Linked DNA regions of Homo sapiens. The protein of the gene in region 2 interacts with the protein of the main gene of each other region in a pairwise test. Each region holds a gene or a part of one and is shown on either strand. Other genes may lie near its edges.

Region 1 (7,835 bases), on a different chromosome or scaffold from region 2:
TGTCTCAAAGCTAAAATAAAATAAAATAAAAATTGGAATTTGCCACTGGGTGTGGTGGCTCACGCCTGTAATCCCAGCACTTTGGAAGGCCGAGGCGGGCGGATCACGAGGTCAGGAGTTCAAGACCAGCCTGGCCAACGTAGTGAAACCCCATCTCTACTAAAAATACAAAACTTAGCCGGACACGATGGCGCATGCCTGTAGTTCCAGCTACTCCGGAGGAGAGGCAGAAGAATTGCTTGAACCCAGGAAGCAGAGGTTGCAGTGAGCAGTGATTGCACCACTGCACTCCAGCTTGGGCAACAGAGTGAGACTTTGTCTCAAAAAAAAAAAATTGTAATTTGCCAATTCATCACTCCTCCTGGTTTTTCAGCTTTGATTTCATCCTTAATTTTTTTTTTCTGTTTATGAGACACAGTCTTGCTCTGTCTCCCAGGCTGGAGTGCAGTGGCGTGATCTCAGCTTAATGCAACCTCTGCCTCCCCGGTTCAAGTGATTATCCTGCCTCAGCATCCCGAGTAGCTGGGATTACAGACAGACACCACCACACCCAGCTAATTGTTGTATTTTTAGTAAAGACAGGGTTTCACGATGTTGCCAGGCTGGTCTCCAACTCCTGACCCCAAGTGATCCACCTGTCTCGGTCTCCCAAAGTGCTGGGATTACAGGTGTGAGCCACCATGCCCAGCCTTTACATTTTATTCTTTTTTTTTTTTTTTTTGAGAGGGAGTCTCACTCTGTTGTCCAGGCTGGAGTACAGTGGCACAATCTCGGCTCACTGCAACCTTCGCCTCCCAGTCTGAAGCGATTCTCCCTCCTGCCTTAGCCACCTGAGTAGCTGGGATTGGAGGCTCACGCCCCCATGCCCGGCTAATTTTTGTGTTTTTAGTTTTGTGTTTTTAGACAAGGTTTCACCATGTTGGCCAGGCTGGTCTTGAACTCCTGACCTCAGGTGATCTGCCCACCTTGGCCTCCCAAAGTGCTGGGATTACAGGCGTGAGTCATTGCGCCCGGGCTTAACTTTTTTTTTTTTTTTTTTTTTTTTTTTTTTTTGTGGTGGAGTCTCACTCTGTTGCCCAGGCTGGAGTGCAATGGCACAATCTCGGCTCACTGCAATATCCGTCTCCCAGGTTCAAGTGATTCTTTCGCCTCAGCTTCCTGAGTAGCTGGGATTACAGGCACCTGCCACCACTCCCGGCTAATTTTTTTGAATTTTTAGTAGACACGGGGTTTCACCATGCTGGCCAGGCTGGTCTCGAACTCCCGACCTCAGGTGATCCTCCCGCCTCGGCCTCCCAAAGTGTTGAGATTACAGGCGTGAGCCCCTGCGCCCAGCTGATTAACTTTTATTCTAACCTCTGAGAATGACAGAAGAGGAAAGACTTGTCTTTCAGAGTATGACAAAAACTGAAGAGGTTTTCATCTAGTTAAAAAAAAATGGGGAGAAAAAATTATCTCTAAAAAGTGAGTGGCATGAGCAAAAATGAGAAAGCAAAGACTGTAACTGAAGAACATAGTCTTTATAGACAAAGCTTAAAGCCCATATAGGGAACAGTGGAAAATACTATTGGAAGGCCTTGAGTAGCAGGCTAAGGACTTAGGCATTATTCAGTAGGTAGTGGTTGCTGTCAAAGGAAACACCAGTGTGGTATGGAGGAAAATTTTCTAGTCCTGATTTCAGAAGGCTGGAATTATTGTGCCAGTGTAATACTTGGCAGTCCTTACCCTAAACCTTGGTTTATTTCTAAAACAGGGGTAATCAGGCAGTTGTGAGGGTTAAATAAGATCATATGACAAGGTGTGTTTGCTTTGAAAATGTCAAAATGTTATAAAAATGTAAGTTTTCATTGTTGTGAGGACATAATTGATACTTAAAGACTACCGATATAGCAAAATTACTAAGGTGATGGCTGTAGGATTACAAGAGGGGCAATTTTTTTTCTTTTCTTTGTTTTTTTTGAGACGTAGTTTCACTGTTGCCCAGGCTAGCGTGCTATGGCAGGATCTCAGCTCACCGCAACCTCTGCCTCCCCAGTTCAAGCGATTCTCCTGCCTCAGCCTCCCAAGTAGCTGGGATTACAGGCATGTGCCACCATGCCCGGCTACTTTTGTATTTTTAGTAGAGACGGGGTTTCTCCATGTTGGTCAGGCTGGTCTCGAACTCCCGACCTCAGGTGATCCGCCCACCTCGGCCTCCCAAAGTGCTGGAATTACAGGCGTGAGCAACCGCGCCCGGCCAAAGGGGGGCAGTTATTATTATTATTATTATTATTTGAAATGGAGTCTCGCTCTGTCGCCCAGGCTGGAGGGCAGTGGTGCTGTCTCGGCTCACTGCAACCTCTCCCTCCCGGGTTCAAGCTATTCTCCTGCCTCTGCCTTCCGAGTAGCTGGGATTACAGGCGCACGCCACCATGCCAGGCTAATTTCTGTATTTCTTTTTTTCTTTTTTCTTTTTTTTTTTTTAAGTAGAGACGGGGTTTCACCATGTGGTCAGGGTGGTCTTGAACTCCTGACCTCAGGTAATCCGCCTGCCTCGGCCTCCCAAAGTGCTGGGATTACAGGCGTGAGCCGCGCCCGGCCAGCTGCTGCTGTTTTAGACAATGGTTGATGAAGGATTCGAAGGCCTAAACAATAGAGCTTTTGTTCTGTTTTGTTTTTGAGTGGTCCTGAACAGTTCTTTTGGGCAGGGGAATTTGTCTGTGTGTGAATGTGCAAACATATATATAATCTGAGTGGCTGCCTGGCCTTGTCCTAGGTTTTGTCCCGTATATACGCCGTCTTTTTTTTTTTTTCTTTCTGCATGTATGTATATTTTCTCAAGGCATCTGTCCTGCACTAGACTTTGGCTTGTCTTTCCAGGCCAGCTTCCAGAGGATGCTTTGGCAGTTTTCCCTCTGGGTAACCAAGCAGGCTGCAGCCAGCAGATGGCACTGCAGCAGAAAGGGGCAGAGTCCCTTTAGGCCCTTGACAAGCACGGCGGATTAGTAACCGTATAATTTAACCCTCCAGTTAGCCTTGGAGGACTCGGTGTCGCACTTCCGCCCGAACTCTAATAAAGCGGGCCGAGTTGTGTGCAATTAAGGATTTCAGTATGCAAATCTGAATCTGTACTTTTGTCTCCTCCACCCCACCCCCATCATTAGACTGGCAATGTCTTTTGTCACGTTGTCAAAGTGTCCTCAGAGAAGCGGTGTCTAGATATCGCCGATTTCTGGTTAAAGTGGCTGAAGTGATCCCAGCATTAATTAAATGCAGGAGAATCGAGATTCTCCTGATAGTTTAAGGAAAAGAAAAATTCACACAAGCAAACGGGCAACCCTTTGAATGTTTTCCGACGACGTGGTGCTTTAGGATCTGAAAGATGCGACTTGGTTTTTGTTGTTGTTGTTGTTGTTGTTGTTGTTTTTGAGACGGAGTTTCCGCTCTTGTTGCCCAGGCTGGAGTGCAATGGCGCGATCTCGGCTCACCGCAACCTCCGCCTCCCAGGTTCAAGCGATTCTCCTGCCTCGGCCTCCCGAGTAGCTGGGATTACATTACAGGCATGAGCCACCATGCCCGGCTAATTTTGTATTTGTAGTAGAGACGGGGTTTCTCCATGTTGGTCAGGCTGGTCTCGAACTACGATCTCAGGTGATCCGCCTGCCTCGGCCTCCTAAAGTGCTTAGATTACAGGCATGAGCCACCGCGCCCGGCTAATTTTGTATGTTTAGTAGAGACGGGGTTTCTCCTTGTTGGTCAGGCTGGTCTCGAACTCCGACCTCAGGTGATCCGCCTGGCTCGGCCTCCCAAAGTGCTGGGATTACAGGCGTGAACCACCGCGCCCGGCCGCGACTTGTTTTTGTTACAAGGTTCCTCATTTCATTTGCAACGTTCAGACGCAGTCTGACTAGATTTCCATCCGGAGTAAGGAAGAGCAGCTCAAGGGCAGTCACGGAGGCCGCAGGTGCGGCTTCTTCACCCGCGGTGCTGGAGTTCTCTCAAGTGGAAGCCCAGGACGATGAAAACCTCATAGGTAGGCTGCTGCTTACACACAGCAGCCGCCACGGCGCAAAATAAACTACAAAACTACAAGCCTTTACCTTTTCAAACACACTGACGCGGGCCAGCCCCAGCCCTACGCCCGCAGGGGCACGCAGAAAAGACTTAGTTACCACGGCCAAGTACGAAGCCTTCGAGATAGCGTTCTTCTTACCCTACGTAAACACGCAGTTTCCCGAGCTCGACAATCGGCTAGCCACTCCTGATAGCGTTCGGCGCTCGCCTCTCGGCCCTTGCTCCTGCGTACTACGGCTTCTTCCAGTCACCTCGGCCCGGATCGGGAAGTGTCAAGCGGGCGCTCCCCCATCTCCGCCGCTATTACCACTGAACCCGGACCCCCTACCCAGGTCCAGGGCCAGCCGCCATGACGAACGGTGAGAACTGATGCCCTGAGCGGAGGGTGGGAGTGAAGGACGAAGGGAAAACGTGGCGGGCGGGGCCGGGACTGACGTGGCCGTTCTCCCCGCCCCCTCCCAGCCCGGCCCCCCTTGGCCTCTCGACGCCCCTAACTTCTGTACCCCTATACTCCTCTACGGGTTCCCCCTTCCCATATTCATCTAGGACCCCCAGTGCCTCTTATGCTCACACCTCGAGTTATCTATCCCTATGCTTTGCTTTCCCTTTTCTTTTTCTTAGTTCTTTCTGGCCCTTGGAGAGGTCAGTCCCAGAGGTACTACTGCTATTTAAACCCGGGGAAGAGAGAGGCTCCTCCTCCCAGCTCCCTGCGTTCTCATGCTTTCGGACCGTAGTTTTGTTGAGAGGGCCAATAAATGACATAGAATATCAAGTCCCACACTTTTGGGGTTGCTGGTGAATGTAGACCCCACAAAAGCTTCTTCTTACGGAAAAATACCGGAAAGATTTCTGATTTTAAAGTCCTGGCGGGGTGATCCCACGTGGAGACCCTGACTAGTGTTGCAAAGGGTGGATTTAGACACTGCCTCTTCTAGATGATGAGGCAGTTTATCTGACCTAATTTTCCAGGCCTCTTCAAACACTTTATGAATTCTGAATTCCAGAGGAGGACAGGAAGGAGGGCCTTCATGATTTTTAGTGTCAACCTTACAGGAAAGGAGAAGAGAAAGCCTTTTAGGCATTACGATGATTTGAGGGGCTCCGGAAAGCATTTCTCAAAAGTACTTTGTCCATAGACCTGGCACTGAAGACTCGAATTTAACCTCCTTGTGAATTTTGGCATTGTCTGCAGAAACTTATGAGAGAAAAGGGGTAGCACGTGAAGGTATAGTTCCTCAGAAAACCTTAGTGTATGTATTAATTTGCTGGACCCTTTCTTAGTGACAGCTTAGCTGTGAGACAGTTTTACTGGAGGAAGAGAGGTAGTGTGATCTAGAACTGGCAGACACTGGTTATATATAATATTCATTTGGAGCTTCCTGGGAAGTCAGAGGTCTCAGGATACTAGGCACAGTAAGAAAAGGGAATTTACCCAGAGGAAGACAGAATCTGAACCAGGAAGTAAGACAGCAGTTTGACACGGTAGTTGCTGAATAAATTTTAGTCATTCTTCCCCCATTTTGTGGTCCAATATCTTCTTGTTTTTTGCAATTAGGTGATTCATTGTGCTTCCCTGTACAAGAAATAAGCTTGGTTTATGTATTTAAGAAACAGAGCTAAGAAGTTAAAGCTTTCTATGTTGAAGCCTTAGATACTTTTTCTTTGTTTTAGAAAAATCTGTTATTATTCTGGCAGAAATTCGGTTTGTTAAGAGTATCATCCATAAAGTGTAAGATAATGATAGGAAAATTGTAGTCATGTGGATTCTTACTCTTGCAACTTTCATTAAGCTTAATTTTTTGCCTTAACATATTCTTCACCAACAGTTGCACATCTGACAGTTTTGGCTACATATCTAGCTCTCCTTTATCATATGAGTGATTTATAACAAGAACATGTTAAATTCTCTGTGCTGAGTCTCTAAGGATTCATATGTCTCAATCTATTGCCAACACTAGTCATTCCTGGGATGCTAATTTCTGCCCAGGATTTCTACTTCTTGAAAGGTGAGGGGAAGGACCAGTGACATTTTAGTAAAGGGGATGTAAAAAAAAAAATTTTTTTTTGAGTTGGGGTCTCACTCTGTTGCTCAGGCTACAGTGCAGTGGCATGATCGTAGTTCATTGCAGCCTCGAACTCCTGGGCTCAATTGATCCCCCTTCCTCCTACAAGCAATTTTTGGGAACAGTAAAATAATCGTGTTAGTCCCAGGATCCTGGCTCCCCCTTGTCAAGTGTCAGTACTGCCTGTTGAGGTTATTATTTTGTTATTATGTCACACACTATCTTCCTTAGAGTTCTCAGGCGGGATCACAGGTCCGACGCTAGATCAGTACCTAAGGTTTTCTTTTCTTCTTTATTTAACAGTGTACTCCTTGGATGGGATTCTGGTGTTTGGTTTGCTCTTTGTTTGCACCTGTGCCTACTTCAAGAAAGTACCTCGTCTCAAAACCTGGCTGCTATCAGAGAAGAAGGGTGTTTGGGGTGTGTTTTACAAAGGTGAGGCCATGTCTGGACAGGGAGAAGAGACTGCCATCTCTGGACAGTGTGGAGCTACAAAGTAGGGAGTACAGTGAGCTGGGATTATATTTGGTTTCATTTTTAGAAAAAAATCCCTCCGATTGGGTCTGAGAGTCTGGAAAATTAATCATTCTCCAAAGTTGAGGGAAGAGGTAAAAGTTAAAATTTGCTGGGTGTGATGGCTCATGCCTATAATCTCAGCACTTTGGGGGGCCAAGGCAGGAGGATTGCTTGTGTCCAGGAGTTGTAGATCAGCCCGGGCAACACAGTGAGACCCCATTTCTACAAAATATACAAAAATTAGCCAGGTATGGTGGCACGTGCCTGTAGTCCCAGTTACTCAGGAGACTGAGGTGGGAGGATTGCTTGAGCCTAGGAGGTTGAGGCTGCAGTGAGCCATGGTGGAGCCACTGCACTCCAGCCCAGGTGACAGGGTGAGACCCTGTCTCAAAAAAAAAAAAAATTATTTAAAAACATAATTGTCTATTTTAGCATCCAGATGATTTTTGTATTCTCCATGGAGTAAAAGTATACACATCAAATCATTTTAGGCTGGGGTGGAATTCCTCCCTTCAGTGGGAAAAAAATTTTTCTACGGAAAATTTTTCTTGATTTTCTGTAAATGGTACATTGGAGTCTGTTTTAAGGTTTGAGTTAATTAACTCAGATGCTTTTTTGTACTTTTTATTTGAGGCACATTCATTTGGAATCCTATCTACCTAAATTTTTTTTTGAAAAAGGACAAAATATAAACAAACAGTATATTCACCTAGACCCTAAAGCATAAGGATAGCATTTAGAAACATCTCAGAGGCCGGATGCGGTGGCTCATGCCTGTAATCCCAACACTTTGGGAGGCCGAGGAGGGCAGATCACCCAAGGTCAGGAGTTCGAGACCAGCCTGGCCAACATGGTGAAACCCTGTCTCTACTAAAAATACAAAAATTAGCCAGGGAGCCGGGCACGGTGGCTCACGCCTGTAATTCCAGCACTTTAGGAGGCCAAGGTGGGTGGATCACCTGAGGTCAAGAGTTCAAGACCAGCCTGGCCAAGATGGTGAAACCCCATCTCTACTAAAAATACAAAAATTAGCTGGGCATGGTGGCAGGCGCCTGTAATCTCAGCTACTCAAGAGGCTGAGGCAGGAGAATTGCTTGAACCCGGGTGGCAGAGGTTGCAGTGAGCCGAGATCGCGCCACTGCACTCCAGCCTGGCCGACAGAGTGAGACTGCCTCCAAAAATAAAATAAAAACATCCCAGGCC
Region 2 (7,674 bases):
TACATTTATGAGTCCTCAATTTATTATGCAATCAAGATAAACAGATGGTGTCTCATAATCAGTATGAGGGCAGAATGACTTGGAGAGCTTGGAGATGAGCCAATAAAAACCTGTTTGCAGTGCCATTGAGTGTGGCAGTGCCTCCCAGAAGAGGTACCTCATTCTCACAGAATTAGCAGACCATAAAAACAGCCCTAATATTTGGGAGAGACAAAGTGAGGGAAATCAGAGAGGCAGTCAATATTCAAGGAAGTGCAGGAGGAGAAAGGGGGGCTCTGAAAGGAAGACTGTGTAAATGGTGGGTGAGCAGGAGGGCTAAAAAGCCAGAAGGGCCTGCAGCCCCTGCCTAGCTACTGCAGCCCCAATAGCTGAAAATGCAGCCAGCATCATTGAACTCAGCTGCTTACCTCAACTTTGCAGAGAGGCAGCCTTGAGTAATTCAATCAGTACTGACTGGAGGGCTCCTGTGTGCAGGTCACCAACAGGCTCTGTGGGCAATACAAAGAAGGACACAATAGAGGTTCTGCCGCCAGGGGGGTTGTAACCCAAGGTACATGCATAATCATGGAACTCAATATCATACCGTGTGCCAGGAAACAGTGAGGGAGCCCAGCTCTTTTCTACTGGAAAGAGCCAGGAAACAGTGAGGGAGCCCAGCTCTTTTCTACTGGAAAGAGCCAGGAAACAGTGAGGGAGCCCAGCTCTTTTCTACTGGAAAGAGCTGTTTGCCTGTGGTCAAAAGAAAGCTCTTAGTTCCAGTGATCAATGTTGTTTTGTGTAATCTAGTCCCATACTTATACAAATATAGATTATAAAAACAAATCAATCTTTTTAGTTACATAGAATTACATAAAATTATGAGTTTCTAACTTTAAAAATCAGGATATAACCCACATAAAACTGAATATTATAAAGACCAAAGTCTTCCTACTCATTCTCTACTAAAAGACATATTTAATAACAAAATATATGCAAGATAAAGTTATACAGACTTTTAAGAGGTGATGGTTGTGTTGTTAATCTCAAATTCAAAAGTCTTCAGAACAAGTAAAAGAGGCAGGAGAGCTTCGGCTTAGTCAGGAAAATTCTGTGCCCACCATCCCACCTGCCCCCCATTTCCCCCACCAACACCCCAGCAAAGAACTAACAGAAAGAACAAAAAGGAATTTGAGGAGCTGCAAAGAATCCAAGATCCATTTTTTAGTGACAACCTGACAGCATTTTGTTTGAAAATGTTGTCAGTAAAAACAATCTATGGGCCAGGTATGGTGGCTCACATCTGTAATCCCAACACTTTAGGAGGCCGAGCCGGGCAGATCACCTGAGGTCAGGAGTTCAAGACCAGTCTGATCAACATGGCGAAACCTTGTCGCTACTAAAAATACAAAAATTAGCTGGGTGTGGTGGCACTTGCCTGTAATCACAGCTACTCTGGAGGCAGAGACAGGAGAATTGCTTGAACCCGAGAGATGGAGGTTGCAGTGAGCCGAGATCGCGCCACTGCACTCTAGCCTGGGTGACAGAGTGAGACTCCGTCTCAAAAAAATTATGCCAATGTCTTTCCTTATTTGATCTGTTTAAGTGCTTTCCTGTGTAAATGATCCTCTCAACATTACTGCTTGTAGGAAGCAGCCAATTCTGGGCCAGTTTGCTCAGAGCACATCACTATGAAAGTGAAAACTCAGTCTCATGTCTGCTGTAGCTCTTCCCCTAGATCTTCATAGAGCTGACCCCTGGTCATTCAGTTCTCTGCTCAGATGTCACTGGCTGGATGTGAAGAAAGGAGGAAGTGGCATCAGGGATTGACCCAGCTTTCATGTTTGGTGAATGGGATGGACAGTTGTTCCATCAAACACGTCAGGGAATTTAGGAGAAAGTGCAGGCTTGTGCGGAGAGAGATGTAGAGAGCAGAGAAGAGGGGAGGAGAGAGATGGTTAACACGGCTCATTTATGGACACATGGAGTCTGTGGAATACCAAAGTGAAGACGTCCAACACAGTTGAATAGATAGCTCTGGAACACAGGCAAGAAGTGTGGCAGACAGAGGAGAGAAAAGAACATCAGCATACAGATGAGAATAAAAAACCATAAAAGTACATGAGATTACTCTAAGAGAAGGGCAGAGAGTAAGAAGGAAAGAGAGCACAGAACCCTAGAGCACACCAATATTTAAGGGACACAGGAAATAAATTCAGTCACTGTAACTAAGAAAGAATGACCAGACTGGAAGGAGAATGAGAAGAAGAGTGTCAATGGAAGATTCATAATGTCAAATATGATAGAAGAGTCAAGTAAGATATGGGCTGAGAAACTGAAATATGTCCATTGAATTATGTCCTTTACTATTGTTGTTTCAGTAGCGTGACAAGAATGGAAACCAGTGGGTTGAGAGAGCTGGGTTGGGGGGAAGATGTGGGATGATATGTACACTTTTTTCTCCTAAACTGAGGAGAAAGAAAAGAGAGCAATAGCTGGAGAAAGGATGAAGAATCTAGGAAGGAATCTTTTTTAAATGGAAGAGTATGAGAAGCCTGGATGCAGGGGCGAGGAGAGGCTGAAATTACAGGTGAGAGAGCAAAAAGCTGACAGATTCAATGGCAAAAAATGATGGAATCCAGAGCATAGGGTTTGATGGGTGTTCAGTGGGAGGAGGGTACCCAAAACCAGAAGAAACGACTGATGGAGACGCAGGTAGGGTAAGAGAGGAGGAAGCTGAGAGAATTTTTCAATGCTCTCTGTGAAAACGGTTAGTGGGGATATCAGGGGAATGGAAGTCGAGGCTGAACAAGAATAAATGAGAGAATTGATTTAGAGAAGGGGTCAGAAAACTTCACGGTCTAAAAAAGAAAAGTGACTTGCTTGAGGTTGCATTGCTGGTTAATGCTTAAGAAGATAGCAGCAAGAGGAAGGGGCCTGGTTTGGTGAGAGGATCTAACATGTACTGAGGCTCTATTACATCCCAAGCACTCTTCTTGGTGCCTTATGTATGGTCACTTAGATCACACAATGCTATCCTATAAGGCATATACTTACTAGTATCCCCATTGTGTTGATGAAAAATGTGAGGCTAAATAACGTGTTCAAGGTCATAATGTCCATAAGCATTTAAGCTGTTATTCAAAGCCGTGTCTTTTGACTTCAGGCCTGGTAGCAATCCAGGGGCCCAAAGCCAGTGCCTTTTCCACTCTACCAAATTTTTTTTTCATTAGTACTTGTTAAGTGTCCTGCTGTCCCCAACAGCAATAAAAAATACTGAGTGCTAGACAGGCATGGTGGCTCACGTCTGTAATCCCAGCACTTTGGGAGGCTGAGGTGGGCAGATCACCTGAGGTAAGGAGTTTGAGACCAGCCTGGCCAACGTGGTGAAACCCTGTCTCTACTAAAAATAGAAAAAAATAGCCAGGTGTGGTGGCAAACACCTGTAATCCCAGCTACTCGGGAGGCTGAGGCATGAGAATTACTTGAACCCATGAGGCAGAGGTTTCAGTGAGCTGAGATTGCACACTGCACTCCAGCCTGGGTGACAAAGCAAGACTCTACCTTAAAAAAAAAAAAAATGAACTGAGTGCCTCAGTTCATTGACTTTTTCCACTGAGTTTCCTCAGCGGAAAAGTCAATTCAAGACTAAAATATTTAAAGTATAATATTTTTGTTCACTACAAAAATTATCACTACATAAACACACAAATCCTGCTGCCACTTTGGTTGCTAATGGGAACCAGTTGATGAAACCAGCAATATAAAAGGTAAGACACTATGTAAACTAAAGAGATCAAAGGTGGTTTCTAGCTCCTAGCTTCTTCTTTGCTGAAGTACACCATATTGATGGTGAGCATCTTATATTTATGATTTTTATGGAAACCCTCAGTAACCAAAAGACATTTTAAAATGCAAAGTACACACACACACACACACACACACACACACACGAAACTATCAATTGTGTTTATAGGTTAGCTGAGTAGTATCTACAGGAACACACAAAAAAACCCACAGAATGTCGTAACAATTAACACATATAACACTTACTATATGCCAGTTAATGTTGGGGTTTTATATATCATTTAACACTCCCCAGAGTCCTACTAAGTAGGACCTATTATTGTACAAATGAAGAAACAGAGGTACAAGATGATTAATTAACTTGCTCAGTGTCACATAACTAGTAAGCAGCAAAGCAAACCCCAGAGCCTGTGGAGCCTGACTCATACCAAATTAAAAGTGGCTGTGACTTTTCTCCCTCTGGAGAGTTTTGAGCTTTCATTTTAGAGCTGTTCTTCCTAAAGGGTAGAGGAATGAACCAGGTACCTCCCTTGAGAATTAATGTTCTGGAATGCATAAAGTGTGAGAAAGAAAAATTGTCACCTTAGCAGAACATGGTCGGATATGATGCCAGCTGGTCCTTCTGGAAAAATATTAGTGTTTCTTATAAAACACCTGATAGATTTGAATAAGCAGATCAAGGAAGAGTCTGGTTACTTTTTGCCAAGAGAAAATTTTTTGTTTACTTAAAAGCTCCTACCTTTTAGGCAAGTTTTAAATACAACTTTGAAACATGCAATTAATGTGTCTGGGAAGTGTATTTTTGTCTAAAATGAACAGCTTAAGTACTATTCCATGACTCTGCAGTGTAAAGGGTACTAAATTGGAACACATTATGAATAGCCTGTTAGGGCAATTTTCTGACATGGAATCTTCTGATGGCCTGGCCCCTAGCCAATTCTCCCTGGGGACTGGTCTTTAAAGATTATTGCTGCCTCAAAGTGGCAGTCCTTGTCAAGAAGTAGAGATAACACTACTGCATGTAACTACCTCTACATCCTTAAGACCAAGGGGAAAATGGTCTCAATACACAGTATGTAATGGGTTATTACTGAATAGTTTTAAATTTTCTGGCTAAGGCTGACACTCCCTTTCTAATCCATTCTATTTCACTTCCAATAACCTCAAATGCCCTCTGCTCTTGTCAACATCCTGCTCCAACGTCTTCAGGCGGCACCTAATAGAACATTGTCCAGGTTCTTTAATTAACATGGAAGGTCCTCCCCACAGTGACTCACTTTTCATTATTCTCTCTGACTCTGCTCTAGTCACAAATGTTTGCCTTTTCACACTTGCTGTCCTCTGTGACACAGCTACAATCCCAGAGTCTGCCTCTATTCTTCTGCCCTCTGTTTGCTGTTTCTGAAATATCCTCCCAATTTATTTACATCCTAGTCATCCTTCAAGGCCCACTTAAGCCCCAGTCCCAAGAAGCCTTTGAAACTGCTCCACTTACTGTGATATCTACCTGAAATTTCATTCAAAGTACTTATAAACTGTCTTTGTTATTTCTATATACTTGTTCCTTCTACCTACTTAGATTATAAATTATTTCATGGCAGGGACTGAGTCTTTAAGTTCAGAATCTAGTACAGGTACTTGGCACAATGTACGTATTCAATAATTGCTGATGGTGACTCCCAAATCTGGTATAAAAACACCGGTAATTATTACCAATTTTCTCAAAAGGTTTAACCTTTGTTTAAACAAAGTTCGACAAAGATCACACAGTACTTTTTAAAAAGGATGTCAAGAACAAGGTAATGTAGCTTTTAGTTGGGCCTCAGCATAAACAGACATCTGAATTTAGAAGCCTGTTTCTCCTATGGAAGATACGATCATGTGTAGACAGCTATTTGCAGCATGAAAAGTCACAGAGGCTCTCTGAAGAGGGGAAAATAGCAAAGCTGGCAGACACTTTTTGTGCTGCCTTTCTTTCTATAAATTACAGGTGGGTTGGTTTAATACCTGAAAACCCAAATAATGTGTTAAGTCTTCTGCATCAATTATACTTCAAAATGACGCCCAATACGAAGAATGGAATAATAGATGTTGCATGTTTGTTACCAATTATAATGTCTGTATTATGAAAGATGTAAGTGTGTCATTGTCATTTTCTTGTAACATGATATGGTATAAAGTGTAGCAGAATAATCTTCACCAAAAATTGACTGAATCATCTGATTATGTTTCAGATATTTATCACCATCATTCACCAAGATTTTAGTTTCTGCATACTAATCAGAAGGAGAGAATTTCTCCCACAAACAGGCAACAAAACCTCAAATAACTAGGCATAAACAGATGTTGTCTCTCGTTATTACATTAAGTTTGGGTAAAGTGTGAACTTCTTAGAATTTGCAAGGAGAATTCAAGTTTCCCAGAATGAGACTGGGGTCATTAATGATACTGCGAAAACTTAAAAACAGCTCACCATGGAACAAATTCCATCTATTCCTCAACAGAGCTTGAAAAACAAAATACAACTTCCTAATAAATATGGCAGTTTTCAGTCTTTATGCTGTGAACCAGTGAAGTATGCACATGATGCAGAAAATAATAAAGGCACATTGTACCAAGTTACAAACTCTTGAATTTGTATGATATGGTTTGTGTCCCCACCCAAATCTCAAGTCAAATTGTCATTCTCAGTGTTGGAGGAGGGGCCTGGTAGGAGGTGATTAGATCACGGGGGTGGACTTTCTCCTTGCTGTTCTCTTATAGTAGTTCTCACAAGACCTGGTTGTTTAAAAGTGTGTAGCACTTCTTCCTTCACTTGCTTTCTCCTGATCCCACCATATAAGACAGGTTTGCTTCCCCTTCATCTTCCACCATGATTGTTAAGTTTCCTGAGGCCTCCTTAGCCATGCTTCCTATACAACTTGCAGAACTGTGAGTCAATTAAACCTCTTTTCTTTATAAATTACCCAGTCTCAGGTAGTTCTTTCTAGCATTGCGAGAACAGACCAATACATATATTTTTAGAATAGATTATGTAGGGCAAACTGAACCAAGATTTTAAGTTAATATTAGATACTATAACATACTTATTTAAAAACAGATCAAAATCAAACCCAAAAACAAACCCAAAACATACTATAGCTCTTGGACTAATTCTTATTTGCAAATTATCTTGCTTTCGTTATTCATATTTTGTCCCAAAGGCCCTAATGCTAAATAAAATAAAATAAATTATGGAGCTTTATTTTAATCAAATTCAATAACATTAACAGCACTGTTCACATTAACATAACTGTCTAAATCAATCACTTTACCACATATATGATTAGAACCAAAAGAAAGCTGAAGGCCGGGCATAGTGGCTCATGCCTGTAATCCCAGCACTTTGGGAGGCTGAGGCAGGTGGATCACTTGAGGTCAGGACTTTGAGACCAGCTTGGCCAAAAAGGTGAAACCCTGTCTCTACTAAAAATACAAAAAAATTAGCCGGATGTGGTGGCACATGCCTGTAGTCCCAGCTACTCAGGAGGCTGAGGCAAGAGGATCACTTGAGCCTGGGAGGTGGAGGTTGAAGTCAGATGAGATTATGCCAGTGCACTCCAGCCTGAGCAACAGAGTCAGACTCCATCTCAAAAAAAAAAAAAAAAAAAAAAAAGGCTGAAAATTGCCCAACCACTTTTATTAAAGGTTTTCAGTTTTAAGCTGCATGGAATACTAAGAGGTCTGATTCCATGACCTGGAGAGGTAAGCAAGCAAACAGAGCACTGGGCTAGTTCTCAGGAAGGCAGAGTTATTCAGATTCTGCCTGTAAGTGTGTCATCTAAAACATCCACTTACATTCTCAAAAACTGTATTTTCATTAAAAGAAAGGAAATGGACTAGATGAGCTTT
Region 3 (7,674 bases), on a different chromosome or scaffold from region 2:
ATCAAGTGAGCCAATTCCTACACACACACACACACACGCGCGCGCGCGCACGCGTGCGCGCTAGTCTCCTCTTCGTTCTGTTTCTCTGGAGAAACTGCAGAACATATCCAGCTTCAGACAGTGAGAGCTCAGATACGAGATTCAAGAGGGGAGAGATGACATTTTGTTTATTTTTGTCACCCTCAGGGTACCCATATCATCCCATGTTGCACCTGGTAGATGTAGAACTGAGAAAATACTGTCTCTAAATGTTGAATGAATAACATGAGGGAACCCAGCCACAGTCCCAGAGTCACACTGATCCTATTCACGTGCCTTCCTTCCCTCACTGAAGATGACATTACTGACACATTGTCAAGAAACACTGCAATCAAGAGCTGTGAATGAGGGCTGATGCAAACATGGTGCTGGGCTACAGACAGGCCATAGACATAGACATTGTACATCCCAGAGAGCATGAATCTCGGTGGGGAGAGCACATGTCTATGAAAAGTTTATATCTGGTGTATCTGATGCACCATTTAAAAGATAAAGACATGAAATAGGCTCATTGAGAAGGGATCAACACTTTCAGCCTTTGGTCATTGGAAGGGCTTCACCAAAGAGAGTAATTGAGTAGGACTTTAAAGGTCAAAGAACGGGAGAGAACTTTCCAAAGTGGAAGAATAACCCAAGTCGCAGTAAGAGGATGGTCAAGAAGTAGATGGGTTTGGGAAATGACAAGGATTTGGGGGCTCCTAAAGAGCACCAGCCTAGCTTCCCCCTGTGAGCCATGGCACATTCTGGTGTCATAGTGGTGCATAGGTGGTTGTGGAATAGGTGTTTTCTCTGCAAAGTTAACTGGCTTACAAAGGGCTATAACCCATGTGCTCTGCCTTACTGGCATTTCCCTCTAATCTGAGCTAAGAAGGTCAGCTAAACAGACTATATTTGGACTAAGCTGCTCCCTGTAGCCCAACTACTAAATATCATCATCAGCCAAAGCCACGTCATCAGGCAGGTGGATTCGGATTTTTCACCTCAAATGATAAGACGTGCTTTCTGGCTCCTCCAGCCCCTAGCAATAGTGACACACAGTCCCTCCCTGGACAGTCTTCCTTTATTTCTCACAGAGTCCTGTTACCCTCCCAAGCGACTGCCTCTGCAGACTCTCCTTACGGGTTTGGCCTTCCTCTCTGGACAAAGGGGCGTCCCTCGGATAACTGTTGCCTGGCAACATCTCTACTGTGCCCTTGGAGAAACAGAGACACTGTCTGCTTGAAAGCTAAGGCATGCTGTTGGCTTTTGGGCTGCCTATAGTGAAATACAAAGATTAGGTTTCTTAATTAATAGTTTTCTCACTTTAAAAGGTTATTTAGGATTCAGTTCTTTCTAAACATCATTTTTTTTCCTCTACCCTCCACTTTCAAGCCCTGCCCTTGCTGGTTTTAATTTCACAATTTTAAAGAGAAGCCTGGAGAACAAGCTTGTATAGCTCTCTTAAGAAAAGTCACATTTAGGTTGCTTTTTTCTTTAGGCAGACACAAAACCCCATATTACCTATTCTTTTTTCACGAAAGAAGAGGGGGCAATTAGAACAACTGCCTGGTGATTCTGGTCACAGATTAGCTTTTACATGGGTCCCCACGATATTGGGGTTGTACCCATCTCCAGGAATGAAAGCACTGCTGAGAGCTTTGGGGATTCTCTTCTTTTTGGTGAGCCTGAGGCTATGGCTACTCAATGCCACATGTGTGTGTGTGTGTGTGTGTATGTGTGTGTGTGTGTGTGTGTGTGTATAGCCACACACACGCATATATATATGTGTGTACAGATAGATAGATAGAAAGAGGAAGGAAAGAGAGAGAGAGAGGAGAGAGAGAGAGACGGGCCCAGGGGGAGAGAGACAGGGGAGGGAGTTGGGGGGAGAGAGAGAGAGAGAGAGAAAGAGAGAGAAAGAAAGAAAAGGAACCTAAAAGCAAACAAAAAACTAGTCAGTTAAATCTATCCAGTAGAAAGACAAAGTGTTCATTTGCAGTGAAGTACAACTATTAGAGGATTGCCTAATTCTATTTTTGGAAAGTTCTGTTGTCCATTAAAGCATCCATAGGCCCCGCTCCATTCTTCCTCATATCACAGAAGTGAAGAGACTCACAGTTCTAAGTAATAACTCCATGTGTACATAGTGCCATGAAGCCACATACCACTTTATGGAGTCTTTTTCTTATGGTGTAGTGATCAAGTGTATACACTTTGAATTCTAATAGTTACGGGTTTGAATCTAATTCTGCTACTTTCAGCTTTGTGATTTGGGCTGAGTCTCTTAATTCTCTGAGCCTATCTGTAAAATGGAAATACTAGCATGCGCCTTGTACAGCCCTTGGGAGTATTACATAACAAATGCAGCACTTCTGATAGAGTGCCTGGCGCTTAGTAGGCATTCAAATATGAGCTTCCTTTCCTCTTCTTTCTGTGCCTCTGCCCATAACCTTACCCCCATCTCAGTGATTCAGGCTTTTTCATTAAAAAAAAAAAAAAAAAAAACCAAAAACAAAACAAAAACCCTAAGCAGAGACCAGGTGTTAATAATGAGACAGTTGAATGGAACCAGGTGTTACTGAATGAGATCGTCATTCATTTGGTCCCAGGTTCTGGCTGTTTTGTTTTGTTTTGTTTTTTCTTTTTCCCTACTCATGGCAGGCTTAAACTTTGCTCTGAAATTTTGCCACAACCTGGGCTTCCCACTGACAATTTCTGTTTGAGCTTTTGAGAAGGCCACAGACAGTGAATGGAGAGGGCTCACTCTAGGGAGGGCGCAAAGAAAGAAAGTAACCTTAAGTCGGGCGAGAAGAAAAAGAAATGTTGTTTTTTGGAGGCGTGGATGAAAACATTGTCAGGGTTCAGGGAAATAGGGTAAGTCTCTCTGTAACAAACATTCATTGAGCACCTACTGTGTACAGGCTCAGCTTTCTAATGGGAGGTCTGATTCCTGCCTTTGTGTGCTTATCGTCTAAATAGACATCCAGAGTCTGAAAAAGGTCAACAGCAGCTGAGTTTTAGGCATCAATCACACAGCTCCTAAAAGGCTTCAGACCGAGGGAGCAACTGGATGTGTTTAATCAAGTAAGGCTTCCTGAAAGAGGCAAATTTTGAGCCAGTTTGAAGGAGATGAGGATCATGGGTGGAAGGAGAGGAATTCAGGGTCTAGAACTGCAGGTGCCAAAGCTTAGTGTTAAGGGGTCATTCCAGTGGGTGACAAGGCCCCCTCATCGTCAAGTGCTGGGTGAATCTCCCTTCATTGGAGGCTCTCTTTCAGGGGCCCTGCAGGGACCCAGGCAGGGGGTGGGGCTACAAGTAGTCTAACCTCATTGGACCGGAGGACTCCGAAGAACGGGTAAAGGAAGGCCGGCACCAGGGCTGCAGCTCCCAGAGGCACTGCCTCCGACACCCAGTACACAGCAGTCACGATCAGCACGTAAGCACACGAGGCCTCCTGCAAGGCAAGGAAAGGGGCCGTCATTCACAGGAATAGTCACTGCCACTGAGCGTCCGGATGCAACCCTGGCATCTGAGGCAGCAGACTCAGACTGTAACGCGGGTACTAGGATACAGCCCAGGGACCGAAACCGAACTGGCAGGCGAGCATGGTGAATACATGGTGAGTCCATCCTTTGGTGGGTGACATTATGGCTGCTCCTTCGGGGACCGATGCCTGGCGTGTGGTTTGCACTGGTGTGTAGCCAGGCAGCTCGGAGGGTTCTGGAAACTGCCAAGGTGGGGACTGAACTTAACTGCAGTGACCAGACCCATGATCACAAAACCATACAAGTGGAGTTCAAAGCTTTAACTTGGACTGGGATGTAATTGGTGTTAAGTTGACTGGATATTAGAAGTTCTTGGGGTAGTTGGAGATAGGAATCACTATGTGTGGTGGGGGCTGGGGCTTGCACTTGTAATCCCAGGACTTTGGGAGGCCAAGGTGGGAGGATCACTTGAGCCCAGGAGTTTGAGACCAGCCTGGGCAATATATAGCAAGACCCCATCTCTAAAAAATAAAATATAAATTAGCCAGGTGTGGTGGCACAGGCCTGTAGTCCCAGCTACTTGGGAGGCTGATGCCAGAGGATCACTTGAGCCCAGGGGCTTCAGGCTGCAGTGAGCTATGATCATATGCCATTGCACTCCAGCTTGGACTACAGGACTATAGAGTACAATGCTGTCTCAAAAAAACAAGCAAACAAACAAAAAAAACAGTTCGTTCACATGTGAGCTCTGAGATCAGTCATCCTGAGTTTGACACATGTGCCTAAGATATGAAGATATGTGGCATTGGTGTGTGCCTGACTGAAGAGAAGTGGATCAGTAAGAAGTGAGATTTATAAACAATCCAAAAGGTGGCTTCTGGACTGTGCTCTTACAGCCCTGGGCATCTGGGGTGTGTCTCAAGAATATACCAGGGGGATCAGCAAGGCCTGGAATCTGGACCCCCTCTCCAGCCTCATCCCAAATGGAGTAGCTTTGTTCTCATTTGATTCATATACGAACATTACATGTGAGATTTGAAAAAAAAAAAGCTTTATTGCTTTAAAAATGAATAAACAAAGTTAAATCCCCCTGTTTTAGACTATTTGCTGAAACAACTTGATTCAGTAGTAAATTTTAATCAAATAAATTATTAGGCAACTTGAAGAACTGGTTGACCATTTCCCCCTTCAATTTTGGATCTGAGGTCCTACCATGTTTTGCATCTAGAGACTGAATCCTTCTCCCAAAGGCCCCTGTAAGAGTTAATAAGGAGCTCCCTTCCCTGGGAGAGGGAAGGGAAGACTGAAGAGGAAGGCAGCGATCCTGAGCATGGAACTCTCATTTTGGATGAAGAAGCATCAGCTCCTAACTCAGTGTTTGTCAACCTTCGTACTACTGACATTTAGGGCCACATAGTTTCTTCTTGCAGGGGGGCTGTCCTGTGCACTGTAAAAGAGCAGCATCCCTGGTCTCTACCCACTAAATGCCGGTAGCACTTCCTCCACTGTGACAAGCAAAAAACCATCTCTAGACATTGCCAAATGTCCCTTGGGGAGGTAAAATGATTCCTGGTTGAGAGCCACTGCCCTAACCAGGGTCTGGTTCTCGTTGCTCTTGGACTCCATTCTATCCGCTTGACACCATGGAAACATCCATCTACAAAGACTGAAGACAGCCATCTATCTGGAAGGGGAGGCCTGGACATTCACCAGCATTTTCCATAGCCCACTCACTTTGCTGGCTGGACAACCTAGGGGTGCACAGGGTAATTAAGTACAACATTCTTATCAGAAGCCAGCCCTCCATCAGCTTGCCCTCTAGTTGTGTTGATTGCCCTGAATTATGCTGATGAACGCTGTTAAGACAGGTTACCGCCTTACTCTAGGGAGAGGCTGCAGTTCATGGGCCTTGTTAATGGTAACATCACCAAGCTCCGTGACTCAGAAGAGCATTTATAGAAAATCCAAGTTGGCTGTGGGATCCTCAATTTTTACATAGTTGTAAACCATCAGGACTCGTGTCTGATTTGCCCTGAGGCTGGCTGCTGATCAAGGAACCTGACAAATCTTGCTGTTTATGGCCCCTTGAGTTCAGAACACGCGTCCTCAAACTCTTGCATAAAAGTTACAAAAGGTCGCTGTATCAGTAAGGGGCAGCAGGAGTGATTAAATCAGCTGGGCTGGCAAGGACCTTGTGCCCTCCTGACATTCGTGGATTATGGGATTGGGGTTTGAGAAATGGGAACTGGGCCCAAAAGTTGACTGTAGCTCCCCACTGAGATGTTCTCTGGGGCCAAAAGATCAGAGGGAAGATAAAACTTTTGGAAGTGCTGATAAGACAACAGAACCAATGGTGGAAAAAAAAAGAGGCTCCACTTGGAAACAAATTCAATTTAGAGAAATACCCTGTTTGCTATAGAAATAAAACTACCTAAAGGAGTTCAAACCCACGTGTTCTCATCTCTCTTCTGGGAAAGAGACAGAGTGGCAGATCTTAACTCCAGTTGAAGAGAAAGAGTTGAGAGACAAAATGTCTGCCCCTCACTGGGGACCCTTATTTCTTCCTGGAACCCTTAGTCTTTCTTGATCTGGTCATTACAGGGCTACAAGTTACAAGTTAAGGGGAAGGAGGTGGGGAGAGAAGGTGCAGAGAAAGGGAAAGGAGAAAGAGGAAAAGAGCCTGTAATCCCAGCACTATGGGAGGCCGAGGTGGGTGGATCAGTTGAGGTCAGGAGTTCGAGACCAGCCTGGCCAACATGGCGAAACCCTGTCTCTATTAAAAATACAAAAAATTCATCCAGGTGTGGTGGCACATGCCTGTAATCCTAGCTGCTCTGGAGGCTGAGGCAGGAGAATCCCTTGAACCCGGGAGGCAGAGGTTGCAGTGAGCCAAGGTTGTGCCACTGCACTCCAGAGCCTGAGTGACAGAGTGAGACTCTGTCTCAGAAAAAAAAAAAAAAAAAAAAAAGAAGAAAGGAGAGAGAGAGAAAGAAAGAGGACTTTCCCTCTGCCAGGTGCCTTTAGTTTTCAATTAGGAGAATGTGGGTAAAATAAAGCAAACATTTTGGTTGTAAATATTGTTAGACATGCGACTAGGTTACTGGAAGAAGTAAGTCATCAGGCCACCTTCACCCAGCTGTATTAAGGACAGGATTAATTACTATCATTTTTTACCTGGATTTTCCTTAGAGTAGAAGAATGGACAAGAGACACCTTTAGAGAGTCTTTCCATACAGTTTCCACTTATTTCACCCATGGAATCTCCATAAACTTCATTTTTCCCCTTCTAAAGCTTCCCAAAATTCAGGAGGTAAGCTTGTATTCAGACAACCAAAAATACTGCAAAGTTTGCTTACAAGGAGTCCGATGTCCCCAACGCCTATCCCATGTCTAGCAGGTGGTTCAATTCACGTGGGCTGAACTGCACTGGACTTCTCTGCTGGCTGTCAGGTCTCGCTCATCTTCTGGAGAGAATATTCTGCAACCCCCAGGCTCTTTAACAACACCACTGGTTCCTTATAATAGCAGGTATGTGGGGGTTGGGCATTGGTGAGTGTTCAGACAATATCTTCAAGGGACATGCTATCTACTATTTTTTGGCTCCCGTTTACAAGTAAAGGAAAGAGTTCGAAAGTGGCATTTCCCCATGTAGGACGTTTCCTAGTCAGCTACTCACTTAGGCGTGGAACTGCTCGTTTTCCACGCAGTTTGACCACCCCAGTGATATCCCACTCCAACTTCACGGGAAGGAGGTTGAAGTCTGTTATCTGTTATCATCAATGACTGGGGGCGCCTTTTAAAAAATTTAGCTTGGGCAGTTGAGATGCAACTTTTATCCCACTGGGGGCACTGAGGAAGGGCTTAGTTATGGATGCTGTCTCTTGTACCCTCTTCTTCTATAACATGATAAACAGTGTCTGGACCTCTAGTTTTAGAGAGTTGGGCAAGAAAAAGGGGGAAGGTCATTTTGACTCCTCCTAAAATGTAGCTGAGGCTTGTCGCTTAGAACCATCAAAACTGCAGGCCAGGAGCTCCTGCCCAGGTACTCCATCACTGCTCTCAACTCCAGTCCAGAGCAAGAAAATCCATTTGGAATTTTAAGGGTTAAATATCAGACTCTAAAAGTTTGATGCAGGCCAGGCACGGTGGCTCACACCTGTAATCTCAACAC
Region 4 (7,861 bases), on a different chromosome or scaffold from region 2:
CCTATCCAATAAATACTACCAACTAAAAGTTATCAGCATTTGAAAACTCAGTATCCACTTCTCAGAAGTGAATACCTGGGTACATAGATTGTAACAGTAAAACTATTCTGACAGCAAATAAATTTAATATTTTTTCCCGTGAAACTACATCTATAGATGCTCATTTATCAATGGAGAGGCAGTAATGAAACTCCATGTAGAAGATAAACTCCTACCAGATACACAAGTGACACAAGTTACACAGTAAGATACTGTACTTAATCCCTGTGATCAAGATACATTTAATTCTGATTTTACCTAAACATAATTTCAAATTGAATCTGTTAGTATAAGCTAAAGTAGATTTACTTCGTTTAGACACAGTGTACATTATCATCAGTTTAACGTGCCCACTGAACATATTATATTCTGAGGGAAAAATAAAAAAAATTATTTAAGTTGCAATTAAAGTCCTCTATTCTTTTTTCAAAAGATTGAAGTCTTACTAGTTTAGCAAAATTTTAACAGATAGGTTCTATATAAAGACACAAAGCATGGCTAGCTTACTTTATGAAATAACATACAGGAAAAGGAATTGCACAACAGTGAATTTATAAAATTTACTAAACCCGTGGAAATTTTCTGAAATATTTTCTTACTATTGTTTGTGGAAAACTGTTAGTTTTTATTTTTAAAATACTTATTTGGCATGTGGCCTCTTATATCCAAGTTGACTTTTCTTAATGCATCAAAAGAGCAACATCTTATTCAACACTTCAGAGATAAAACTGCCTACTTTTAAAATATTGTTTTTAAAGTAAGTTTTTAACTGTGATAACATACCAAGATAAATGTGTCCATAAATTCCTAAGAATAATAAGTGTTAGGGCTGTATCTCTTGGGGTTAAGAGGGGTACATCATTCTTTCTTTTGGCCATTATCAAACTGATAATGATCAAATAGAAAGGTAATTCTACAAACCTGAAGTTAGAATACCGATTTAGAAATACTCTTGGTATTTTAAAATTCTGCAGATTAACTTTGTCTGGGCAGGTTCAAAGCCTCCATGGCATCCTGAGCAGAAGAGTTTTCTGCAGGCAGGGCAGATCTATTAAAAAACATGACCTGTGACAAAAATCAATGTGCTAATCTCAAACCAAACAACAGTATCAAAAGCACAAAACAGAGATAACCTAAGATAAAATGTCCTCAAACTAACTCAGACTAGCTTGACAGGTTAAGAAGGGGGGTTAAAGTAGGGGTGTTGCTGGTTCTTTCCGTTTTAACCCAGGAAGACTGGAACACCCAAGTATCCAAATAAATGAATGCCATGAGAAAAAGATCACAATGTGGAGCTTGGTGTGGGAAAGAAAAGACAACCGAGAGCAAGATATCCCAAATTCAAAGAAACTATTTCAGTGTTGCTTTATTTAATAAGGTGCTAAAGTTCAGAGATACAAATTTCTGCTTCGTATATGCTGCCTAATAAAGCACAAACGGGGAAAAAAAACTAACCAACATAATGAGACTGGCTTTTAACACCATCACAACTGGAAAGCTTGCTCTATTTGTCTTGTCAGCTTTAATAAAAGGCATCTCTCCTCTGGCAGGATGGCTTCTTTTTCTCTTTTCCTAATAGTGGTAAGTGGCATGTCAAAGAAGAAATCGCTTCCCATTCCACCACCCACCTCCAGGAGACTCTTGTTTTTTGAACCAAACTTTCAGGAATATCTCCACTCCTGTTCAGCGGTTCATTTAGGACTTGGGCGGCTACCTGAGTAAGACTATCTTGGACTAGCGGGATAGGGGGAACTCCCTCCTGGTTCTGTAACCGGCGGACTGCTTGTGGGGAAATCTTCCCATCTTCATCTGCGCTGACATTATTCAAGCAGGGAATCCCTCTCTTGCCTGCATGCTGAGGGGAGGCTGGAGGCAGGCGGAGAGGGCCCGCAGGAGATAGAAAAAACTGGAGGCGCCCACCGATACCCTCTCTCCTGGAGCCCGGGGCGCGCACCAACTCTTAGGCTAACCCCTCGGCCTCCCGCCTCTCTCTTCCCAACTTCCACTCCAGCCCAGTGAAAAACCTGTGACTTTAGATGCAATCGGTACTATTAATAAATAGCACCTAGGAGGGCACCGAGACCGGCACACAGCTGGAAGCTAGCCTCTGTCCCAGAGAAAGCAGTGCGGTATGGGCCTAGCGGGGCCGACTTCTGTGCACAGGCCGGGAAGCAATAAAGGTTCGGAACTGCTCCAGACCCGGAGGACCCCGCCGGGCACTCTGGATAACCTCCCCACTCCACTTCCAGGGTCCGAAAACACGGGACGTCTGCGACTGGCCGGTGTCCAGCACGCGCACTAGGACCGCCCCCGGCGCCCACCTCTAGTCTCCCGCATACCCGGCGGGCTTCGGGACGCCTACAAATCGGTTCCAGGTAATCGCGCGCGTTCCTCCGGCAGCACATCGCCAGGCCGCGGGCGAAGGGCTCCCACCTCCTGGCTCGGCCAACTCTGGCAGCTTGTTCTGCACACATGACGTAACCCGGCATTAGATCAAACTTTCTGGCACCTTGAACCCACTGGGGTGGGTGGAGGGATGGAGAAGATGGGAGAATCCTCTCCACTGCCAGGCGCGCCGGGCCCAGACTGACTCAGGGGCCGAATGATTTCCTCGCAGTTGAAGAGGAAAATAAAAACCTAAAGCTTCCGCTTCCCAGCCCCCCTCACTTCCCCCAGCCCGTGCGCTCTCTCTGCGCGCACCGGGAAAAGAGAAGGGAAAATTAAAATTAAAAAAAAAAAAAAAAAAAAAAAAACTTTGGGGGATGTTTGGCGGGTTCTCTCCGCAGTCCCTGCGGACCCACGCTCCAGGAAGGAGCTCCCGGCTGCGCACACTGGGGGCTCCCCGCGCCGGGAACCGGATGCCAGCCAGATGCCGGGGCTGGGAAGCAGAGAAGTCCCTACTCCCCGGCTCCCGCCCTTTTCCGAGTCTCCCGGCGCCCCGCAGAAGCAGTTGGTCTAGGCAGCCCCGGGGACTCCCAGGGGTACCTGGCCTTTCCGCGGCGGCTTAACAAAGAGGGGCGCGACGCGAGCGCTTCCCGCCGACGCCTCAAGCCATCAGCGCCCGGGCGACGCAGGCTCCGAGGGTGCGCGCCGCCAGCGGTTGGTGCGCGCCGATCCCCGCCGCCGCTCCTTCCGCAGGGCCCCGAGGCCCGGGTAGCCCTGGCTCTCCGCCTGTTATCGGCTTACCTGGGGTTGCTGCTGTTCCAGTAGACAGCGTAGCGGTCGGCGACGGCCTTGGAGCCCGGGTCCTGGCTGAACACACACATCCAGAGCACCAGAAACACCAGCGTCAACATCTCCACGTGCAACATCACGCCTGGCCAGCGGCGGAGCCCCCGACGCGCCACTCCGGGGAGAGAGCGGGGATCCGGAGGGAGGGAGGCAGGCAAAGGGACAGAGAGAGAGCGGGCGCCAAATAAATATGAATAAATAAAAATGAAAGTGGGCGAGAAAGGAAAGAGGCGCCCACCAAGCTGGGGAGGGGTAGGAGAGCGAGAAGAAAAGAAGGCGGTGGGATGGGGGGTGATAAAGACAAACTCGCACCCCCACTGGAGGGTTCAGGAGGAAAAAGGAATCACAAGATGGAGAGAAGCGTGCGTGTGTGTGGTGGCGGCGGCGAGGGCGGGGGAAGAGGTGCCAAGCTGTGTCTCGGGCGGCGGCGGCAGGCCGGTCACCCCGGGAGAGGGAGGTGCGCGCCGGGCCGGGCGGCTGCAGCGCGGGTCGGGGCAGGCGGCGGCGCGCGCTGCACAGTCACCGGGAGTTGCGCGCCGCAGCCGCGGGGAGACATACACCGGCCCGCCGGGCCCGGCTCAGCGTCGGCGCAGCAGGCTACGCACGGCTCCGCCACCGCCCGGGGCCCTCGCACTGCGCCACGCTTCGCTCCAAGTTACTTTGGCGGCCGGTGGGAAACTGCAGGAGAAGGGCGACGTGCTGATAGAGGGCTTCGCGCTTGTGGTCCCGGGAGTCTGAGAACCCCTTTCCTCAGCCTCCTCTGTGCCTTAGCGGGGCGACCCCCAGAAATCTCAGAGGAGTCGTAAGTGCTGCGGTACCGGGCGGTGCGCCGAGAAGGGTGGGGATCCGGAGCCGCAACCCAGCCTTGTCGGTGTCCTGGAACTGGTTAAGCGGCAGCTGCGCCGGCTTTCGAAGCGGTCTTGCCTCGAAAACCTCAAAGAAAAGTTTGGCTCTTCGCGTCTTCCGGCAGGTCCCCCAGCAGAGTCGGAACGCGGCGGTAGCGGAAGAGGGCACCCCGGGGGCTGGCCGAGCCTCGGGGATTTCTCGCGCGTGCTTTCCTTGGCTGGGTGTGGGTGCACCACAGTGAATGAAGAGCAGAGGTTAAGACCAGCCGGCCTGGCAGAGCTGGGATTCCTAAACCTGCAAGACGACGCCAACCCAACTGTTCGGCTGGAGAGCGGGAGGGGAAACAATCACTTTCAAATGGATCCCTCCAACTCCTGGATGGGCCGATGTCAGTCTCCGATCGCCTTCCGAGAGGGAGACTGAGCCCCCACACGCGGTGCCAAGAGCCCGGGGTGAGCTCTCAGAAGTGTCCCTGCGACTCCAGCGGGTCCAAGCCTAGCAACTTGTAGAGATGCATCAATCAGTTTGAAATGGGAAAAGAGGAAAAAAAAAAAGCGCACGAGCGAGTGGCACCTCCCCGATGACTACATCAGAAAACCTTCCCGATCCTCCCGCAGCTGCTCCTCTTTCCCTCCTTAGGCACAGCAGCAACAGAGGTGAAAACCACAAACCGAATCCTAAAACCCCTACCCAGGCGGGAAAATAAATAAACTTGAGTGCAGCAGCAGCAGCACGAGCAGCCCAGGAGGAATTGAAACGACTGGCAAGAAGTGGAAAGGGTTTTGTAAAAGTCAGTTTTGCAAAAGAGGGGGAAAAAAAGAGAGCGAGAGAAAAAATGCTTTATGGGAAAAAAAATCTCCTCGGGCACGCCCCCTCGTTAATGACTTGCGTGGAAAGCCGACAGCGGCGGCGACCCAGTGGCAGCAGCCTCAGCAGAGCGCGAGGCCGCACGCGTGAACGTGGACGTGGGCGGGGGGATGGGGCTCCGCCCGGGCGTGTTGCGCGGGACGCGGGACGGGCGGGCGGCGCGAGCGCGGGTGTGAGCTCCGGACGAAGCAGGGGGAGGTGCCGCCAGCCCGCGCCCAGCCAGCGCTGCTGCCGCTGCGGCCCGGGTCATGTGGACTGTCTTTTTTTTTTTTTTTTTTTTTTTCCTCCTTCCAAGCAGTTTACTTGGGAAGGGTGGGAGCGCGGTGGGGGGATAGCTGGAGCAACCAGTCAGGGAACGGCCTACTGTTTGCTTACAGATTGGGGGTTTTTCCTCTCTCTTTACTCCAACCGGATTGGTTTGCTCCACGAGAAAGAGGCGTTTTCCTAATCTCCCTTCCCCACGCCTCCTACCCCCTCCCCCGCCCCACCTTCTAGAAACCTGACTAATTGAATTACTGGGAGTGCCGAGGCGCCCTCTCCTGCGCCGGAGCCCGGCAGCCACGTGTAACCCTTTGGGTGCTGAATTCCGTCTGGGCTAAGGAATGATTTGACATCTTTTTACCTGGGAGTAGGGTCTTTCGATTTTAAAGGAACCTGTGCCCACCCTTTGGCTGGAGAGCCGGCATCTGTCTCTGGTGCCCCGCAGGTGACGGATGGGCTGGAACGGAGCCTCAGGGAGTGCGCGTTCCTGTCCATTCCACCCGCTCTCCACGCCGCACGCTGCCTGGCGCTGGGTTATCTGGAAGTCTGAGCACCCCTCCTGTGCCTTTCAGCCCTCCTCTTCCCACTTGGGATTTAAAGATTCTTGGGCAGGAAGCAAGTTTTCTTTAAAGTGATGCTCTGAAAACACGTTTTTAAAAATCAGGCAAATCACAGTTTAAAGTGATTACAATTCAGCGCGAACCTTCCACAGAGAGGAAATGAATGCGGCAGACGAGCCCTTCAGAAATAACCTCACACCTCTTCCATTTCAACCTTGAGGGTGATTTGCTGCCCACTCCCCAAAGAATAAACGCCTTTATCGAACCCGGTGCGGAAAGAAATGAGGGCCGGGGGCGGGGGCTGTGGGAAGAAAAGCAGTTCCTTTATTGTTGGAAAAGGCCCCTCGGTCCTGGACTTCAAGGGCAGGTTGCAAGCCTGGTCTTCAGCCGCCACTGAAGAGCGATCTCCTGGCAGCGAGACTGTCCCAGCGCCTCGGGACGCGTCCCCACTGTCGTCCAGCGCCCAGGAAGTGAGCCCGACGCCTGCTCTGCGGGGCCACAGGCCCCCGAGACCCGCCCTTAAGGGGTCCGCGGGCTCGGGAGCAGCGGTATTTTTTCTCATGTTCCCTAGGGAGTTTTCTGCCTTAGTGGGAAGGGCAGATCCCCAGGAGAAAAAAGGCAGTTTACTTTTGCTCCCACACCTGCCTGCACTCCTTTTTACTTATTAGCCCAATAAAATCAAATCTCACGTTCACCCTCCTGCGCTTTCCAGTCCTCAGACGGGATTTCCAGGCGCTTCAGAGCTGTTTAGAAGCGTCCAGACGCCCTCCAGTGGTGGGCCTGCAATCCGCACCCAGCAGGGGCATTGCCTGCCGCTCAGGCCGGGTTGAATTTGATGGGAAATCTAGGGCTATGACCAATAAAGACTCGAGAGGAAAAGAAACAGTTCATAGGGGCACGGAGGTACCTGGATGTTATGGGCTCTTGGCTAAAAGTTAAGTCGTTTTTCAATTACAGTAATATTTCCTATCTGAAAAGATCCTGAAATCGTCCTAGGAAAGTAACTTATATTTTGTGACTAGATACAAATTGCAATCTGTACAATAATGGACTTTACCACAAACCAACCATCTGCCTAATTATTAAAAATTGAAATTCAGAATGTCGACACAAATGCTCCTCCATCATCTGTATGTTTCACAAAGTTCCAGCAGTGAGAAAGAAGTGGGGAAAGAAGTGAGAGAACCAATGGATAAGCTTTTATTTTTCAAATCAAATTTTCAGTTAAAATGTTATTTGCTTTTTTCCCTGGTCTGTAATCTTGCTGATGTTCAAGTTCTTGGCCCATTTTAGGGTGTGTGTTTTTTCTGTTGCAGGAAAGATGGATTTGTTTCCTTAGCTTTTCTTATAGTGGCTCTAATAGGTGCTCATATGACAGAGACAGTTTTGCAGGAAATATTCTGGACCCTTTTAAGAGATATGTGTATCTTTAAAAAGAAAATTCACGACTCCTGTCTAGGGTAAAATGCTGATCCTCACTGAAGAGTCTTTTTAGTCAGGGAACTATCAGGTAACAGGGAGCTAGCAAGCTGGCTTCCTGTGGCATCAAAGCTGAAAAAAAGGTGAAGAAAAAGAAATGGTATCCACTCATTTCCCGTTTGAAACACATACAATAACCAAATGGGAAAATTCAATTATATCACAAAAATATGGATGTCCTTATATTTAAATATCTCTACTATTTAAAGTTTGAATAGTCCCATATTAAACAGAAAAAAAAGTATACATTGTCCTCTTCCATAAAGTGATTCATAAGATTGGAATAAGATGTTGAAATTCGCGGCTGTTCATAACATAACTCAAATGTCTATGTGAAACAATTCATAAACCTAAATCAAATGACTCTGGGATTATGTGCCTAAGTAATTATTGGTATGGAAGTTACTAGTCAGCAGGATGATAGATACAGTAAGTCCTTAATGTCAGGGATATGTTCTTGGAAATTGTGACTTTAAGCGAAGTGGCATATATAAGGAAAACAATTTCACCATAGGCTACTTGATACAAACAAGAGTTAAATTCCTATGCATATCTCCGGTCACAAAAACATCACCAAA

Evidence for each region.
Region 1: the proteins of ACKR2 (region 2) and TMEM167B interact in binary tests that used the Homo sapiens proteins (3 or more experiments, as listed by UniProt).
Region 3: the proteins of ACKR2 (region 2) and SLC13A4 interact in binary tests that used the Homo sapiens proteins (3 or more experiments, as listed by UniProt).
Region 4: the proteins of ACKR2 (region 2) and EFNA5 interact in binary tests that used the Homo sapiens proteins (3 or more experiments, as listed by UniProt).

Annotation. Positions count from the first base shown.
Region 1 is NC_000001.11:109,086,471-109,094,305, forward strand, and holds the start of TMEM167B (protein kish-B isoform 1 precursor), read left to right. Parts: upstream 1-4,293; 5' UTR 4,294-4,402; coding exon 4,403-4,412; intron 4,413-5,189; exon of another isoform or gene 5,190-5,278; intron 5,279-6,419; coding exon 6,420-6,551; coding exon of another isoform or gene 6,552-6,612; intron 6,613-7,835. UniProt on the Homo sapiens protein: Involved in the early part of the secretory pathway.
Region 2 is NC_000003.12:42,812,445-42,820,118, reverse strand, and holds part of ACKR2 (atypical chemokine receptor 2), read right to left. Parts: intron 489-7,674; 5' UTR 408-488; intron 1-407.
Region 3 is NC_000007.14:135,718,052-135,725,725, forward strand, and holds part of SLC13A4 (solute carrier family 13 member 4), read right to left. Parts: intron 3,473-7,674; coding exon 3,344-3,472; intron 1-3,343. UniProt on the Homo sapiens protein: Sodium:sulfate symporter that mediates sulfate reabsorption in the high endothelial venules (HEV).
Region 4 is NC_000005.10:107,667,264-107,675,124, forward strand, and holds the start of EFNA5 (ephrin-A5 isoform 1 precursor), read right to left. Parts: upstream 3,675-7,861; 5' UTR 3,351-3,674; coding exon 3,226-3,350; intron 1-3,225. UniProt on the Homo sapiens protein: Cell surface GPI-bound ligand for Eph receptors, a family of receptor tyrosine kinases which are crucial for migration, repulsion and adhesion during neuronal, vascular and epithelial development.